2 linked regions of the Homo sapiens genome follow. The protein of the gene in region 1 interacts with the protein of each later gene in a biochemical or structural test. Each region holds a gene or a part of one and is shown on either strand. Other genes may lie near its edges. The genes, in order: RAB22A and APPL1.

What was found.
Region 2: the proteins of RAB22A (region 1) and APPL1 form a complex in vitro, tested with the Homo sapiens proteins (one study listed by IntAct).

What each region holds. Positions count from the first base shown.
Region 1 is NC_000020.11:58,307,299-58,311,211, forward strand, and holds the start of RAB22A (ras-related protein Rab-22A), read left to right. Parts: upstream 1-2,416; 5' UTR 2,417-2,678; coding exon 2,679-2,714; intron 2,715-3,744; coding exon 3,745-3,824; intron 3,825-3,913. UniProt on the Homo sapiens protein: Plays a role in endocytosis and intracellular protein transport. Mediates trafficking of TF from early endosomes to recycling endosomes. Required for NGF-mediated endocytosis of NTRK1, and subsequent neurite outgrowth.
Region 2 is NC_000003.12:57,265,589-57,269,501, forward strand, and holds part of APPL1 (DCC-interacting protein 13-alpha), read left to right. Parts: intron 1-2,153; coding exon 2,154-2,204; intron 2,205-2,753; exon of another isoform or gene 2,754-2,809; coding exon 2,810-2,899; exon of another isoform or gene 2,900-3,913. UniProt on the Homo sapiens protein: Multifunctional adapter protein that binds to various membrane receptors, nuclear factors and signaling proteins to regulate many processes, such as cell proliferation, immune response, endosomal trafficking and cell metabolism.

The sequences.
Region 1 (3,913 bases):
AACGGTAACAGCAGCCATTATTTACCAACTGTTTATTACATACTAGGCATTGTGCTAAATCCTTTATTCATTTAATCCCTTATAAAAGCCTTTTGAGGTGGGCCACTATAATGCCCATTTTACTGATGAGGTCGCTGAGGCATAGAGTGGTACAGCGACTTGCCTGGGATCACACTGACAGTAAACAGTGATACGGGATTTCACTCTTGGCCATCTGATTCCACAGACACCGGGCTCTTAACTATCAGCTTGCTTTACCCCTTCAAAAGTGTTATGCTACTTTAACAAAACTGCCCCTTGTTGGTTTGTTTTGTTTTGTTTTGTTTTTTTGAGACGGAGTCACTCTGTCGCCCAGGCTGGAGTGCAGTGGCGTTCACTGCAACCTCTGCCTCCCAGGTTCAAGCAATTCTCCTGCCTCAGCCTCCCGGGCAGCTAAGATTAGAGACGCGCGCCACCAAGCCCGGCTAATTTTTGTATTTTTAGTAGAGACAGGGTTTCACCATGTTGGCCAGGCTGGACTCAAGTGATCTGCCCGTCTCTGCCTCCCAAAGTGCGGGGATTACAGGCCTGAGCCACCGCACCCAGCCGAAACTGCGCCTTCTGAGTTAATGTGTGTAAAGAGTTTAAGACTGGGCCGGGCGTGGTGGCTCACGCCAGTAATCCCAACACTTTGGGAGGCCGAGGTGGGCGGATCACGAGGTCAGGAGATCGAGACCATCCTGGCTAACAGAGTGAAACCCCTTCTCTACTAAAAATACAAAAAATTAGCCGGGAGTGGTGGCGGGCGCCTATAGTCCCAGCTACTTGGGAGGCTGAGGCAGGAAAATGGCGTGAACCCAGGAGGTGGAGCTTGCAGTGAGCCGAGATCGTGCCACTGTACTCCAGCCTGGGCTACAGAGCAAGACTACGTCTCAAAAAAAAAAAAAAAAAAAAAAGAGTTTAACGCTGTCTGGTCCATGGTAAGTTTTCAGTAAACACCAACTCTTACTATTAGGAAACCTGAAGATGTGGAATGAAAGATGAGAGGAAGTACTGTATATGACTGGCGTACAGTACGCCCCCAATTAATGTTAGCTATTTGGATGATTTATATAGGGCTTCTTCACCAGCAAGCACTCCGGTGCTCGGTAATTTTCTGTTTACAAGTAGGCTCTCCCCACACCCTGTGAGCTCCCTGCGTGTAGAGCTGTTTTCAACACATCCTTGCAGGTTCGGAGCCCAACACGTGGCCCCCAGAGCAAATAGCTGCTCAGTAAGTTTCTTGACAGGAGAGAAAACGCTTCCTTCCTTCACCAGAAATGCGAACTTGGATTTCTAAGATGACACCTCCCCCAGCTACCAGCCCTTAACATGATTCCAAAAAAGAGGGCAAGAAGGGACAAGGGTCCCACCCAAGAAATGCGGGGGCCAATGGGCTCCATGGGATAAGAGATGGAGCCGGGCTTGTGGCCAGGACACTTGAGAAGTCCGTGCAACTCCGTGACCGGCCACACCGAGAGGGGGACCTCCCAAACCCCCCAGCAGTCCTAAAAAGTCCCTAGGAAAAGGGCAAGGCCCTGAGAGGGAAGTCACCCACCTCCCAGGTGGCGGACCCCCCGCCCGCCCAGGGTCGACTAGGACTTGGGACTACCCCCTCCGCCCATCCCACGGCAGCTGCAGGCGCAGGAAGAAAAGAAGTGACAGGGAGTCCAAAGTTTCCCCAACAACAAAAATCCTTCCCCCGAGGGAAGGGAAGGGCTCCCACCCTCAGCCCGCCCCGCCCAGGGAGGAGGGACCGCCACCAGTGGATCTAGGCAGTTGGGGGTCCCGCTGTTCTGGTCCCGACAAGGAGTGCCTGGCTTGAGGTTCCCCCGCCCCGCGCTTCGTGCACTCTGAATTCTTTGAGAGGGTCCCAGGGAGGGACAGGGGTGCCCCAACTCTTACTTACAGTCGTCTAAGTCATCCTGCAAGTCCACAAAGTACAGGGGGATCTCTGAAAACCAAGAAACACACAAGAAGTTACCAGGGGGCTGCGGCGAGAGGGGACGGGGTCGGGCAGGGGCCCCTCGGCCTCGCGGGGTGGTCACGGGGCGAGAGAGAGAGGGGCACCCCTGGCATCCCCCGAGCCCAGCCCCACTCACCCGCCATCTTGGGATGGGCATGGAGGCGGGACCGGCAGGGGCGGGGCCCTGCAGACAGGGGCGGGGCCCTGCAGACAGGGGCGGGGCCCTGCAGACAGGGGCGGGGCCCTGCAGACAGGGGCGGGGCCCTGCAGACAGGGGCGGGGCCCTGCAGACAGGGGCGGGGCCCTGCAGACAGGGGCGGGGCCCTGCAGACAGGGGCGGGGCCGTCGGCTTCGGGCCCCGCCCCCGATCCGCGCCGGCCGGCCGGCCCCGCCCTCTCAGCGAAGGTGGCTGCCGAGGTGGGCGGGGAGGTCAGGTGACGCGGCCGGCGTCCCAAGATGGCGGCGGCGGCGGCTCCCGGAAGGCCGCGGCGGCGTCCCGGCTGCTAAGGCGGGCCCCACGCGGCTGGCAGCGGACAGGCCGGACCTACGGCCGGAGGACGGGCGGCAGCCGCCTCTGCGCGGACCGGGGCTGGGCCGTGCGGCGGCAGCGGCGCCAGGGGATGCTCTTGCTGGGCCTGGCCTCTCCCTTCTCAACTTAGGGCGGCGGCGGGCCCGCGCCCCTGGCTCCCGGGCCATGGCGCTGAGGGAGCTCAAAGTGTGTCTGCTCGGGGTGAGTGGCGGCGGGTCCGGCCGGGAGGGCCACGGGAGGCTGGGCTGGCGGGGACCCCGGATCCCCCCTGTCCCCTCATCCCTTCCCCCCTCCCACGTCCAAGACGCTGTCTGCCAGCCCCGTGGACCCTCCCTCCAGCTCGGGAGCCGTCCCGCCCACCTCTTGCACTCTCGAAAAGGTCCTGGAGGCCGAAGGGACCCTTCCCCTTCCCCTCCCTGGAGCCCGTGGACTCTTCCCGCCCCACAAAGAGCAAACAGCCCCCCCTTGCCTCTCTATTGCATCTGGGTTAAGAGAGGTTCTTAAATAGTTTTCTCCCAACTTACCAAGGTATTAGTTGGGAGTTGGCCAAGTCTTCCAAAGTAAAACCAATAACAGGTCTTTAGGTTTTACAAGCAGCATTAGCCTACTTTGTCTCTTGGGTGTTTTTGAACTTGTGGGATACCCCTGCCACTTGTCCAAAGAGTTACTTTGCCAAGTAACTCTTCCTGTGGAGAAAAGGGGTGTTCAAATCAGGAAGCCCCAAAGACTAGTTTGAAGCTTCAGCTTCCTGTCTTGTCAGGAAAGACAAGGTGTTGGCCATTTCAAAGCCTTCTTTCTGAAATTGATGCTGTCATTCCAGAGTTTCTGCCTTAAAGATCGGCAGGAACTCCAATAACTAATCTTTATTCCCCCAAATAGGGTGGGGCTAGGATTCATCAGGGATTACTCAGAGGTAACTCAGGAGTTCAAAGTTTACTAACATATGTTAAAAAGCAAGTGGACTTGTTACTTTTTACACGAAGCAGAAACTTTGGGTCTCTCAAAAGGTCCTAATCTGTCTTAACGGCAAAAACCTCTCCCTTTTAGTACAGTTGGAATTTCCTAATTACTCTACTGAATTTTTATGACAACCGCTTTTGTGTTCCTCCGTTTATAAAATTTACACGTCTAGGGTGATTTTTCTAAAATCCTGAACTTATGCCACAAAGTAGTTTTTGGTGTCTGCCAAAAGGTAAACTTTTTCTCAGTCCCTCATCTCGTTCTCTTTCAGGATACAGGTGTAGGTAAATCGAGTATTGTGTGGCGGTTTGTGGAAGACAGTTTTGATCCAAACATCAACCCAACAATAGGGTAAGAGACTTTTATTTGATACACATCTAAAGGTGCATTGAAAATCCTTCCAAATACATAGTGTGTTACAGGTGTAGGCCCTGCGCTTT
Region 2 (3,913 bases), on another chromosome or scaffold:
GTTGTATGTTGATTTTGTATCCTGAAACTTTACTGAATTCATCAGTTCTAATAGTTTTTTGGTGGAGTCTAGGTTTTTCTAAATATAAGATCATCATATCATCTGCAAACAAGGATAGTTTGACTTCTTCCTTTACAATTTGGATGCCTTTTTTCCTCTCTTACCTGATTACTCATCTTCCATCTAAAAGGTGGAAAGGCTTTTTGTTTTTCTGCATTCAGTATGATACTAGCTGTGAGTCTGTCATATATGGCTTTTATTATGTTGAGCTATATTCCTTCTATACCAAGTTTTTTTGAGGGTTTTTAATCATGAAGGGATGTTGAACTTTATCAAATGCATTTTCAGCAGTAATTGAAATGATTAAATAGTTTTTGTCCTTTATTCTGTTGATGTGATGTAGCATATTGATTGATTTGCATATGTTGAACTATCTTTGCATTCCTGGGATAAATCCCACTTGGTCATGATAAATGATCTTTTTAATGTGTTGTTGAATTTGGTTTGCTAGTATTTTGTTGAGGATTTTTGCATCAATATTCATGAGATATATTGGCCTGTAGTTTTCTTTTTTTGATATGTCTTTGTCTGGTTTTGGTATCAGGTAATACTGGCCTCGTAGAATGAGTTTGGAAGTATTCCCTTCTCCTCTATTTTTTGGAACATTTTGGGTAAGATTGGTATTAGTTCTTCTTTAAATGTTTGGTAGAATTCAGCAGGAAAGCCATCAGGTACTGGGCTTTTCTTTACCAGGAGACTTTTTATTATGGTTTGGATCTTGTTACTTGTTATTGGACTGTTCAGGTTTTGGATTTCTTCGTGGTTCAATCTTGGTAGGTTGTATTTGTCTAGGAATTTATCCATTTCTTCTTGATTTTCCAATTTACTAGCATGTAGTTGCTCATAGTAGCCACGAATGATCCTTTGAATTTATGCAGTATCAATTGTAATGTCACCTTTTTAATCTCCAATTTTATTTGAGTCTTCTTTTTCTTAGTCTGGCTAAATGTCAGTTTTATCTTTTCAAAGAAACCAACTTTTTGTTATGTTGATCTTTTGTATTGTTTTCTTCATGTCAGATTCATTTATTTCTGCTCTGATCCTTATAATTTCTTGTAGTATTTTTATAGTTTTGGGTCTTATGTTTAAGTCTTTAATGTATTTTGAGTTGATTTTTGTGTATGGTGAGAGGGAGGGGTCTGGTTTCATTCTTCTACATGTGGCTCTCCAATCTTGCCAGAACCATTTATTGAAGAGGATATCCCTTCCCCAGTGAAAGTTCTTTGTCACTTTTGTTAAAGATCAGTTGGCTGTAAACAAGTGGCTTCGTTCCTGGGTTCTCTATTCTGTTCCATTGGCCATGTGTCTTATTTTTATAACAATCCCCTGCTGTTTTGCTTACTATAGCCTTGTAATATATTTTGAAGTTAGGTAATGTGATGCCTCCAGCTTTGTTCTTTTTGTTTAAGATTGCTTTGGCTATTTGCATTGAACCTATAGATTGCTTTGGGCAATATGGTTATTTTAACTATATTATTCTGATCCATGAGCATGGGATGTTCTTTTGTGTCTTCAGTCTCTTTCATCAGTGTTTTGTAGTTTTTTGTGTAAATAAAATTCTTATATAATTCTAAGATTTTTGGAAAAAACTCCCAAATTTTGCCTAGGCTTACTGAGCTGCTTGAGCAAAGCATCTCTGAATAGAGCCAAGCTGATGGTTTGGGCCTTCTGACTCTACAGACCCATGTTTTCCCTGCCACTGATAGCTGGTGCAATCTTTTAGCCTCTCATTTATGTTGGGAACCAAACATTATGTTGGGAACCAAAACCAGCCATTTTCAGATGTCTTCAGCTGAGAATAGCATTAGCAGCTGCATGCTTCTTCCTCGTAGGCCTTACTGTGACAGTAATGAATTTGACATAACAAGAAGTGGGGTATATATGAAGGTGAGAGTCAGCAGTGGAATCCTGTAGACTTCAAGGAAAACATACAAAGCCTTGGTTTGGGGGCTTGAGCATTCTTAAATATGCTTTTGCTTGAAGCAATGTATTAGGATTAGTTATAAAACTAGTTCCATCAGTTATTTGGATACTTGACATTTTTGCTTTGTTGTGAGAACTGCCTGAATTTTTCATACTTTTTCTCTTTTTAGATATGTGATTCTGTTGGACTGGCAAAACAGATAGCTTTGCATGCTGAACTGGTAAGAATCCAAGATGTGGCTGGGCACAGTGGTTCACACCTGTAATCGCAGCACATTGGGAGGCCGAGGCGGGCAGATGACTTGAGGTCAGGAGTTCGAGACTAACCTGGCCAACATGGTGAAACCCCATTTCTACTAAAAATACAAAAATTAGTTGGGTGTGGTGTCGTGCACCTGTAATCCCAGCTACTGAGGAGGTCTGAGGCACGAGAATGACTTGAATCCGGGAGGCGGAGGTTGCAATGAGCCGAGATCACACCACTGCACTCCAGCCTGGGCAACAGAGCGAGACTGTATCTCAAAAAAAAAAAAGGAATCCAAGATGCTTGATTTTCCAAGAATGTTAACTAAAATAGTATATTAGCTCTTTCATATTAGCAAGTAAATAAAATGATTTTGCTAAGCAAGGTTAACAGTGATACTATTACCAACATAGCATTTAGAATTTGGATAATTGTTTACCATTGAATATAAACTGTTGATGTGCTTTCTTATGTATAAATGCAAAAAAATATTGAAAGGTTACCATGTGATATTAACTGAAATGTCTAAAATTTAAAGTTATTTCATATTTAATTCATTAGTTTTATTCATCTGTTCTTTAGGATCGTAGGGCATCAGAAAAACAAAAAGAAATAGAGAGAGTAAAAGAGAAGCAACAGAAAGAACTCAATAAACAAAAACAGATTGAAAAGGTATACAGTCCTAATGTCTGGATCTTTATGTGTTGTTTGTGAAGACTTAATTCAGCACTATGACTTTCAGATTTGAATTTCCAAATGAAGGGCTGTTTCTGCTTGTTCAGCCACTTCATAAACAGATGATTCATACCATAGCAGAAAAGGGTCACATCTGTTTTTTGATATGATGTTTACATTATAGTTACGTTGACATGTAATATGACTGTTTCAAAAATATACCAGAACTTTAATATTTCAGAGGAGGTTGTCTCTGTCAAAGCAGTTGAGAGGCTGTGTAGACTTAACTGCCATTGCTGAAAGCCATTTTGCCTTCTATGGGGGGGAAATAAATAAATATATATGTTATATGAAATATATAATGAAATGTATATTTTTAATATTGCCAGGAGTGTCAAATCATTGTCCATCCAACAGAATAATTTTAAAAGACAAATTTCAGAGCAAAACTTGAAGAATGCATTAAATGATCCATGAAATTGTAAGAGCGTGTTATGGGTTGTAGATTGACAGTAGGAATAGAAAAGAGGAGACAGCTGGGATGCTTAGAACAGATCAATAAGCATTGGCTGTGGGCTGGCTCTCTGGACAAAGAAGAGGGAAGTGGCAAAGATGACATTGAAGTGAGGCTTTCTTGATAGGCGAGGCTGAGGGAAGGTGACACCTGATTTAGCAAAGATGAATTGGACAGGGATGGAGAAAAGGGCTGGAGAGGGGAAGGGAAAGGAGTGTGGGGGTGATCCCTTTCGAGGGTTTTACTATAATATATAGTGAGAGATGATTGATGATGGGCTTTATTTGGTTGTTGGTCATAAAAAAAGAAAGATAAAATATTAGATTTTAGTTTGAATGCTGGCTTTTATAGGATGGTGCCAAAATTCATTTTGGTGTTGTATTGTTTGGGTGTAGCTTTTCTTTTTATCAAGTTGTCAGAAGTATGCATACATATTTATGACAGAAGAAGTGGCTCTCAAGAATGTATCTTAACTGCATAATTTGCCATTTGACTGC